2 separate regions of the Homo sapiens genome follow, and region 2 is linked to region 1. The links come from fine-mapping of genetic effects on gene expression. A gene starts in region 1. The other region holds a variant in brackets. All regions are shown on one strand. Distances are between the middles of the regions.

Region 1 (5,389 bases):
CAAGAAAAACTGACTGCAAAGGGAGAGGCTGAGGGAAACACCTGGGCAGGGCAGATTTTTAGGAAAAAGGCAGGTGAAGAAAAGGAACCTATTAGAGCTAGATAGTAGTGAGGAGGGTGGGAAGTGGATGGGAGTAGGTTGGAAAAAACAATAAAGACCTGTACAGTGAGAATATTGATTGCAGGGCTGTTGTAAAGTTTTGGGTAAAATGAAAACCTGTGTGTCAAGCACCTAGTACCGCACCATGCCCAGGACAGTAAGCACTACCAGGATGAGAACAGGAGATGGGAATGATAACAGGGTTCAGCTCTAGAGGCCAGTGCAAGGCTTTATCTCCATGCTGAGCTCAGCAGAATCACGCAAGACTGAGCTTGCATAATCTCACAGCATCGCCCCTCCATCCACTTAGGCTCTTCATGGGTGTTTGATTGAAGGAGTTCATTATTTGCCTCGACTGTCTCTAATTTTTACCACAGTGACTCTCACGATCACAACGGATTGTTCACTTGAAATAATGAATGCGAGTAGAAGTTAGACCGGGCCACAGGGAATCTTCGGGGAAGGAAGAGCAAGTGGGGCGAGGCTGTCAACATCAGAGAGCGACAGCCCCCAAGGCTGGGACTAAACCATGCCCAGGTTTACTTTGACCTACTGATTGTTTTCAAAAGATGAATTTGTTTTCAAAATTTATCATCAGGCTACATCACATAAAAAGTCAGATTTCTGGCTTCCCTCGATTTATTTATTTTTTACCTTTTAGATTTAAAAACATCTATTTCTAGAGTCTGGGAAGTCCAAGATCAAGGTGCTGGCAGATCCAGTGTCTGATGAGGACCCTCCTTCTGGTGCATAGACTGCCATCTTTTCTCTGTGCCCTCACATGGTAGAAGGGACAAGGGAGATCTCTAGGTTCTCTTTTCTTTTATTTATAAGAAAAACAGGCTTTTGCTATGTTAACCAGACTGGTCTTGAACTTCTGGCCTCAAGAGATCTTCCCACCTTAGCCTCCCAAAGTGCTGGGATTACAGGCATGAGCCACCATGCCTGGCCAGGGGTCTCTTTTCTTTTTTTAATTTCCAACTTTTATTTTAAGTTCAGGGGTACATGCGCAGGATGTGCAGGTTTGATACTTAGGTAAAAGTGTGCCATAGTGGTTTGCCACACAGATTGACCCATCACCTAGGTGTTAAGCCCAGCATCCATTAGCTATTCTTCCTGATGCTCTCCCTTCTCCCATCTCCCACCTTCTGATAGGCCCCAGTATGTGTTGTTCCCCATCCGGCTTCCTTCTAAAAGGCTAGCAATTGCAAGATCAGTTCAGCAATTGCCTGGAGCTAAGTCACAGCTTCCACAGTTCGGTCACCCCAGCTCCCTCAGGCCTAGCGGAGTCTGTGGATTACCTGATCAACCAGAATAGGATTTGCATCTGTGCTCTACGCCCCAGAATTCTGAAAAAGAAATCTAGAGCCATCTCCCCTTCCCCACAATGAGTTAAGCTTACTTGGATTCCTAATAGACATTTCTGGTGAGTGTCTGTAAAAGGGTTTGATCACCTGCAAAAATGAAGAAAACTGGGGCACCTGGCTCATTATTTAATCCTATGATACCAATGTCCTGTTTGTGAGTGAGAGAATTAAAGTATCAGGCTATAAACTTTACAAATAAAGCAACTAGTTAGAGAAGAATAAAGAGCAATGTAATTTTTCATGCACTCTTATCTACATGTTGAAAACATCAGAGCTAACAGAATTGTTCAGCAGTGAACACAGGTGAATAGATTTTCATTCTTTAAAAGCTTTAATTCTGAAGATTTTAAAGTGCTGTGCTATTGTCAAGCTTAGCGTGCTACAATAATGCAAGCCACAAATATGAGCTGCCTTCTTAATATTAACGTTCCTAGCAGCCACATTAAAGATGTAAAGAGAAGCAGGTGAAATTTTTACCTAAGCTATCTAAAATATTGTCATTTCAATGTGTAAACAATATAAAAATTATTAATAAGATGTTTTACTTTTTTTTACTAAATTCTTCAAAATCTGGTGCGTATTTTACACATAAAGCATATTTTGTGTGGACTAGCTACTTTTCTAGTGCTCAGAAACTACACGTGGCCCATGGCTGCCTTATTGAACAACATAGATGTAGATGAAATCATATGTTTTCCTTAGAGTAGCAAACAGGGATAGGTGGAGGGAGAGCCGGTATGGATTTGCCCCAGATCTCACAGGGAACCAGGATGCCAGCCAGGAAACTGACATCATTCTAATCTACAAACCATGTTCTCCAAGTTCTTTGGGGCCCCCAAATGTGCCCTCACTCTGACCCTTCCCCTGTCTGTCTCTGTCTCCTTTCTTCATTGTCTAGCTGGAGCCACTGTTGTATGGTGAACAGCACAGGATGTGGAGAAGGAGTCGGCTGGATTCCCAGCCTGTCCCTTGCAGGCTAATGACCTTGGGCAAGTTATTTAACCTCCCTGGTCTCAGATTTCTTTTCAATTAAATAGGATTAGTTCTTTCATCACTGAGGTCTGAGGATTATATAAAATCATAAATATAAACACCTCAGCACCAAATAAACACTATAGTTTTCAACTTTTTAATTATTATTTTTAAATGTGTGTGTGTGTGTGTGTGTGTGTTTGATGAAAACAAGAGTGGGGAAAAAATTGGAGACATGAGAAATGTTTAAAATATGTGTTAAAAATCCCAGGCCACATTCTACTCCTTCTTTAGTAATTGATGCTTAAAACTTCTCTCTGCGCTTATAAAAAGCATGACTTCAGCCCAGAGCCCCCTAAGCCTAGGTTATGCATACATACCCAAAGCACGAGAATAAAAAAGAGTTCTTGTTTTCAATAGAGTTTGTTCCATCACATAGCAATCCAGATAATAAGGGGGAGACACCCCACTGAGCACCATGCGGGGCTCTGCAAATACTGTAAATGTGCGAGGAAACATCACAGGTTCATATGAAGATGGCAAGAATTCTATCATCCAGAGGTCACAAGTTTCTCAGCCCCTGCAGGTTTCCCCACAATAAAATGGTGCTTTGCAGCCCTTAAGGAACCTTACCAGACTGAAACCTTTCAAGGTCCTAAAGCCTGAAGCATAAATGCTACACTCTATTTTCTAATTCAGCTGTAGCCCATACTCACCGCCTTGGGCTCTTTGAGAAGACTAATAAAATAAAGGGAAGACTCACCAGTTCATCCTCCTCTCCCTGGTTGAGCAAAGCCCGATGGTCCTTCTTACTGTTCTCTTCCATCTGAACTCAACCGGCGAGGATCTCTTCTGGCTAACTCCTTGGAGAAATGTCAAAATCCCTTGGGCTTCTGTGAACTTGGAATCGTCACAACTTGTGATTGCTCTTCCCAGGCGCTTTTAAAATCTCTTAGTACACACCTTGCCTATTAGACTAACAAAGGAAAGAGAGAAAATCTTCTCAGGAACAGGATTGGTCTGTTAATCTGGTTATTGTGGGTTTTTTTCCTAGTGTTTGTTTATTGAGCTAGATATGAGTGCCTCAAGACCTGAGGAATGACGGGGGAAGAAGTTGGCAAACTAGAAGGAGAAATCATTTTGTATGCGATCCATAAATGTCTCAGCCAAGGAATGAGAATAGTCACTTTGCTAAAAACCTAAGATAAAAGGATTAGCCAGTGAGAGATGTATAAAAACCCTGCAGACTTTGAAAAAGTAATGAACATATTGGGGGTGACAATGAGAATTGAAGGAAGGGAGGTAGGCTCATGATAGAGAATGTAGGAATCATTTTGGAATTAGAAAAATCTGAGTTCTAATCCGTGCTTCACTGAAGACCCTGGACAAATCACTTAAAATCTGGAATTTCAGTTTCTAGTACATAAAATGTCAATAATAACTATACAGTAATATAAAGATTTAAGATGATAGTCATAAAAAGCCAACGATAGCACCCACCACAGTCACTAAGAGAGAAATAATCATCATCATAATCATTACACTAACCAAGAAGAAAGAGGCTTTAAAAAGTAAACTATATTAATAACTTGATTCTTTTCATTTTCTCTTTAGAGTTTACAAAAGTTTTCAAATGAGCAAAGTATGTGGAGGGAAGAGATGCTAGAAAGTCCGAGGATTAAGGATATAGCCCAAATTTCAACACCACTGAATTTGATATTTTGATTAGAAAATAGGTATACTGTGATCCATTCCAGAGTCAGTTAATTTGTTTGTGATGAAAACTTTTGTCATTTTATTGGCTCTTATTGTATCCTTGCACTTTGACTATGGAAGAAAATTTGCTGGGAATGAAAACTATTAGGGATGATACTTGGCTGTTTCTGCTGACTGAAATAGACACTGATTGCCTTGAGCAGGCATAAGTGTCCAACTTGGTGTTCAGGAGAGATCAACGTGCTCTCTGGCCAGGAGAAAGTGGCTGATGAGAATAAACAGGAAGACAACTAGAGCTCTTCATGCCAGAGGCTCCCGAGGTACCCATACTGAAGTATAATGTGCCGGTGTGAATGTTGCCTTGTAAGTAGTACCAATCTAAGGTAAAATGCATATTTGAAGAAAGGAGTTCTGGATTTTAGTAAAACTTCATTAAAGACACGAGTGGTGGCTATCATTCACTTCTTACCCATCCGCTATTTACTTGTATTTCTTGCTGAAAGAACCCCAACTTTGTGCAGCATGACTTCAGCTAAAAGCACCAAGATGAGTCAATGATTTGTCTATGGGTCGGCGTGTGGCCCAGTTCTAAACAATGAAATAGAAGAGAAAGACATGGTCTTGTGGGAAAGGTTATCTTGTTGATGAAACAGAGAGAAGAACATTTTTTTCTGTCTTCCCCTTTCTGCCTTTCTTTGAAAGTGATCCATGAAAATGCAATGCTTGGAGCATGGTAGCCATCTTTAGGTGGTGAGGAGGATGCAAATCACCATGAAAATTACGGTGAGAAAAGGACAAAAGAAGTTATATGCCTATAACACCACTGATTCATGGACCTACCTACCCCTAAACACCACATTAAATACACAATTAAACATTCTCATAAAGCCACTCTTGCTTGGGTTTTCTGTTACATATAGTCCAAAGATATACATAGCACTGGTCTTGACTCCATTCCACTTTTACTCAACAATTATGTACTGGAAAACAGATGTTCCAGACATTGTGCTAGGCCCTCGAATACAATGGTGTAAAGGAAAGAGCCCCTATCCTGAGAGAGTTTATAGTTACTTGGGAATGACAGATAACTAAGCAGCCTCTTAATTGGGAAATATACTAAACTCAGATTTAATGGAATACAAACAGGTTCCCAAAGGAAGTGACATTTATTCTGACATCTCAAAGATAAGCAGAAGTTAACAGATAGAAAGAATGGGGGATAGTGGCATCTGGTG
Region 2 (5,389 bases), 43 kb before region 1:
AAGACATGTTTTGCTTCTGCTTTGCCTTCCAACCATGACTGTGAGGCCTCCCCAGCCATGTGGAACTGTGAGTCTCTTAAACCTCTTTCCTTTATAAATTGCCCAGTCTCAGGTATGTCTTTATTAGCAGCATGAGAACAGACTAATACAGCAGGTCTCCAGAGGAGGCTCACACAATTAAGGTCAGGGATGAGGTCAAATCACAGGGTTGACTGATTGATTGTTTTGTTTTCCTCACATGCTCTAGATATTAATGATTCTACCCTCTAGAACCTCACCTATGTTTTTGTTAAATTAACCATCATTTTAGCCATAAATACTTTTTTAAGTATTGGAAACATGGGATTCAAGTTCAGTAGCAATGTCTGCTGGGACATCTTTTGCCCAATATCAATTTATCACAAAATTCATTACTCCCTTCTTTTCCCAACCACAGACACGGAAGAGTTTTGACCCTAAGGACTCAGCCTTGTCTAGCGCTGAACCAGTGCAGATAGAGGCAGCCAACAGAGCCACAGGTTCTGACCCACAAGAAGTTGGGGTCTGGGATTATTAGTCTTGTTGCCTCAGTGTGTATTGGATGTTAAGTTCTTCCCAGGAAACCTCATTCTCAAATACTGCCAGGGCTTCCATGAGCTTTTTTCCTGCTTTTCTGCCCAATGCTCCAGCTCCCCAGATTAAATTGGCATACTCCCTCAAATTCCAGCCCCAGTGACCTTGACATTCTGCCTAGCTCTTCACAGGCCCCATCGTGGGCCTCTCTTGACCCAGAAATGCTCCCTGGGAGCTATTTCAGATTGAAATAACTACTCAGCAGTTAAGTTTTGGCGTGAACATTGCCTTGAAATTCTTGTTACTATGTCTTTTCCCACCAATATTCACTGCCCACCTCTCTCTCTCTCACACACACACACACACAAACACACACACACAAACACACACACACACACACACACGCTCATTGATGCCACCAATTTGGACATTGTAATTAAGCCACTCACAGTTTTTCACCTGTTTGGATGTTTTATTCACAATTTTCTCTTCCTCCCCACCAGCTCACACTGTTATGATCCCAGACTTTCTTATTTTCTGGTTCACAGCAAAATCAGACTCTCAGGACCAGAAAGGACCTCAGAGGTCTTTAGTGACAACCCTTCCCTCCCTAGCCACCAGGCTATGACAAGGAGCATCCAAATGAAACCTGACACCCTGTAGCTTAAAGGGAAGTAGGTATCTCATGCAGTACCAGCTCTGTAAAAGTGGAAATTAACTTCATTTCAGACCCTAACCAGAACACATGGGAAACCCACTGATTGCATAGTGTTTTAGATATTACCTAAACACTGGGGGCAAACTAGGCATGAGAACATTTCCGCTGTCTAAGAAGCTCTTTTGGACAGTAATGATTCACAGAATGATGGGATCAAGATGTAACCTAAACCAATCCTCTGAGTTAGGTCAAGCTCTTTGCAGAATCTATACTATTGAAAAGCCTTACCCCCAGTACTTACTCCATGGTACATATATACCCCTAGGGCATAGAAAAAACCCATGACACCAAGGCAGGCCAGGAACACGATGAACTTGAAGGCATCGCTGTATAGTTTGAAGTTCAGAGGCCGGGGGTACAGGATGGATCTCACTAAGTCCCCTTTGGCTGTATTGTAACCTACATAAAGATAATCATAGATCAAGTAAGGCTGCTTGATGGACACTTGGTCTCCTAAAAATGGCTTTACTGTCTTTGAGGAAAAGAGTAGAGTGTCCTCTAACCTTCTACCTAATCATTTTATAAGTTTTCAGGTGGTTTTCATGATTTTTAACCATGAGCTTCCATGTAGGCCACAGGCTGAGCAATGCTCTAGTGTCTAGTGCCTGCTAACTAGTTTGAACATTTAAAAAAATTAGATATTTTTAATTTTAAAAAATCAGCTAGAACAACTAAATCATAAACCAAACTAAAGCATGCAGGTATCACAGTGTAAAGTGTATTTTGCATCTGTGAATAAGTCGGGTGGCAGAAACAGAGGTCAGAGGTTAGAACAGAGAGCTAGGACCAGGTCATAGGAGGCCTTCATTGTGTCACGTCATGTAAAAGACTGGGACTCAGGAAGTGTTTGCGGAATCATCCAGATTTGGTGCCACATTTGGTATGGGAAACAAGAGGAGTTGGAGATGTTATTAAGAGACCAGCATGATGGTGATGATATTAACAGAGAAAGTCAATACAGGAGGATGAATAGTTTCAGATTCGTTGGCTTTAACTGGTCTATAGGGCACCCAGGTGGAGTTCTTTATTACTGAATTTGACATACAGCCTAGCAAGCAACTCTTTGAAAGGAAAAAATCCTCATAGTCGTGGTGGCTGAAATTGTTTTTTGGTAATCACTCAGAGGAGGTGTCAAGGGAGATAGAAGCAGCGTATGGTCACAAGCAAAAAGAAGAGCATAGTTTTACCTTTGACAAATTTTACTTCACCTACACATACCCTTCATCACATAGAAGGGTTTTACCAATAAACCATTTAATTAAAAATAGTGACACTTTAGAATAATAAGTGTCTGTTTGGAAAAAAGCATGTTGTTACTACCAGAATGTGGCAGACTCCATAATCCTAAACTAAATTTCCCTAATCCAACTCTCCCCATGTTCAAGCATGAATTAAACTTACAAAAGTGGAATCCACTAACCTGTTTGCAAAACGACTGCTCGTACAGGCCCCTGCCCAGAGGGCTTGACCT[G/A]GATAACTTCTGTTCCACAGAAAAGGACGTGTTTCCTATAATCCTCCAAACTGTGACATTTCCAAGGCATAGTGTTCTCCATCTGGGGCAATGGTGTCTTTGTAACAGGTATACTTTCTCCTAAAGAGGATTGTATTTTGTTGAATCTATGTAAGCTCAGGTAGTTGGTCAGAACTGGTGCATGCCAGTTTCAAGAAATTATACAAACCACAACTAATCCGGTCTTAATGCCCATCCCATGAGTCAGATGACTGTTCATAGAGATGCTGGTGGTACAAGCAATGGTAGACTTGATTCTATTGCAAATATTTAGATTAGATCTGCCTATCTATCCTATACCTGGCCTGCATGGTTTGTTGTCATAATTTTAAAAGCAGCCTATTATAGATGAGTTATCACTGAATCATTCTCCCAAGCATTCATTAAGCCCAGCACTATTTTAGGCAATGAAGGAGCTTTCCAGCACGTGAATAGTAATTACTATTTGCTTTGCATTCACTCATTTATTCATTTGTTTATTCATTCACCCATTCATTCAGCTATTTTAGGTGCTTATTCTGTTCCAGGAACTGTGCTAGGTGCTAGGAATATGATGAACAAGAGAGACAGAAATCTTGCCCTCATAAGCTCATGGAGCAAGGTGAGAAAATAGTAGTTATTCCACATCATTTTCAGATGGATCCCATCCAAGTCCCATTTTTATCATCTCATTCTTTTGCTCAAAATCGTTAGCCTTTTCCATTGCCACTACTGAATAAAGACCAAACTCTCCTGCTAGATTGTCAAAGCCTACCATGATTCAAACATCATTGCCTGACATTCCCCTACAAAAGCTCCAGCTCAACTAGGCCACTTGCATTTCCTTTTATTGGCCCCCATTCTTTGCAGGTAGCAATTTTTTTCCTTTCCCTGGTGGCTATAAGACAGAATATTTAAGGTACAAAGAAATCAGCTCAGAGTTCAAAAAGGATACATTTCAGAGACAAAATAAAGATGTTAATAATAATTTTTGGCTCCAAGATTTAAAGAGTATTAGAATGAATTTAAAATTCCATCAGTCTTTTACTAAATGTTCAATTAGCAAGATAACTTGTCATATTTCTAATTTGGAAATAGTATTATATCAATCATAGTTATACAAATTTAGGTCTCATCTCTCTTTCTAGGTCATAACTGGGAACAAGAACTTTGACATATATAAATTTGTATACTCTTCATTTTCCTAGTGATATGTAATAGGTTCAAAACACATAGTTTTTTCTTTTTATTTTATTCTACTTTATATTCTAGGGTACATGTGCACAACATGCAGGTTTGTTACATATGTATACATGTGCCATGCTGGTGTGCTGCACCCATTAAATCATAATTTACATTAGGTGTATCTCCTAATGCTATCCCTCCCCACTCCCCCCACCTCACGACAGGCCCCGGTGTGTGATGTTCCCCTTCCTGTGTCCAAGTGTTCTCACTGTTCAATTCCCACCTATGAGTGAGAACATGTGGTGTTTGATTTTTTGTCCTTGAGATAGTTGCTGAGAATGATGGTTTCCAGCTTCATCCATGTCTCTACAAAGGACATGAACTCATCCGTTTTTATGGCTGCATAGTATTCCATGGTGTATATGTGCCACATTTTCTTAATCCATTCTATCATTGATGGGCACTTGGGTTGGTTCCAAGTCTTTGCTATTGTGAATAGTGCCACAATAAACATACGTGTGCATGTGTCTTTATAGCAGCATGATTTATAATCCTTTGGGTATATACCCAGTAATGGGATGGCTGGGTCAAATGGTATTTCTAGTTCTAGATCCTTGAGGAATCGCCACATTGTCTTCCACAATGGTTGAACTAGTTTACAGTCCCACCAACAGTGTAAAAGTGTTCCTATTTCTCCACATCCTCTCCAGCACCTGTTGTTTCCTGACTTTTTAATGATTGCCATTCTAACTGGTGTGAGATGGTGTCTCATTGTGGTTTTGATTTGCATTTCTCTGATGGCCAGTGATGATGAGCATTTTTTCATGTGTCTTTTGGCTGCATAAATGTCTTCTTTTGAGAAGTGTCTGTTCATATCCTTCGCCCACTTTTTGATGGGGTTGTTTGTTTTTTTCTTGTAAATTTGTTGGCGTTCTTTGTAGATTCTGGATATTAGCCCTTTGTCAGATGAGTAGGTTGCAAAAATTTTCTCCCATTCTCTAGGTTGTCTGTTCACTCTGACGGTAGTTTCTTTTGCTGTGCAGAAGCTCTTTAGTTTAATTAGATCTCATTTGTCAATTTTGGCTTTTGTTGCCATTGCTTTTGGTGTTTTAGACATGAAGTCGTTGCCCATGCCTATGTCCTGAATGGTATTGCCTAGGTTTTCTTCTAGGGTTTTTATGGTTTTAGGTCTAACATTTAAGTCTTTAATCCATCTTGAATTAATTTTTGTATAAGGTGTAAGGAAGGGATCCAATTTCAGCTTTCTACATATGGCTAGCCAGTTTTCCCAGCACCATTTATTAAATAGGGAATCTTTTCCCCATTTCTTGTTTTTGTCAGGTTTGTCAGATGGTTGTAGATGTGTGGTATTCTTTCTGAGGGCTCTGTTCTTTTCCATTGGTCTATGTCTCTGTTTTGGTACCAGTACCACACTGTTTTGATTA

What was found. PIP is the estimated chance that this variant, and not a neighbour inherited with it, causes the effect. A credible set is the group of variants that fine-mapping cannot tell apart.
Region 2: its variant is the best candidate, but not a certain one, in a credible set for the expression of ATP13A5 in nasal epithelium (TOPMed, PIP 0.63).

What each region holds. Positions count from the first base shown.
Region 1 is chr3:193,375,462-193,380,850 of GRCh38, forward strand. ATP13A5 (ATPase 13A5) reads right to left here and starts at 3,292. Exons shown (of 30, transcript NM_198505.4): 1 at 3,202-3,292. The coding sequence starts at 3,264.
Region 2 is chr3:193,332,239-193,337,627 of GRCh38, forward strand. ATP13A5 (ATPase 13A5) reads right to left here. Exons shown (of 30, transcript NM_198505.4): 10 at 2,691-2,861; 11 at 1,512-1,669. Among named protein-coding and RNA genes, the nearest start is that of ATP13A5-AS1, 28 kb to the left of the region's middle. The variant G/A (reference allele first, on the strand shown) is at 2,742.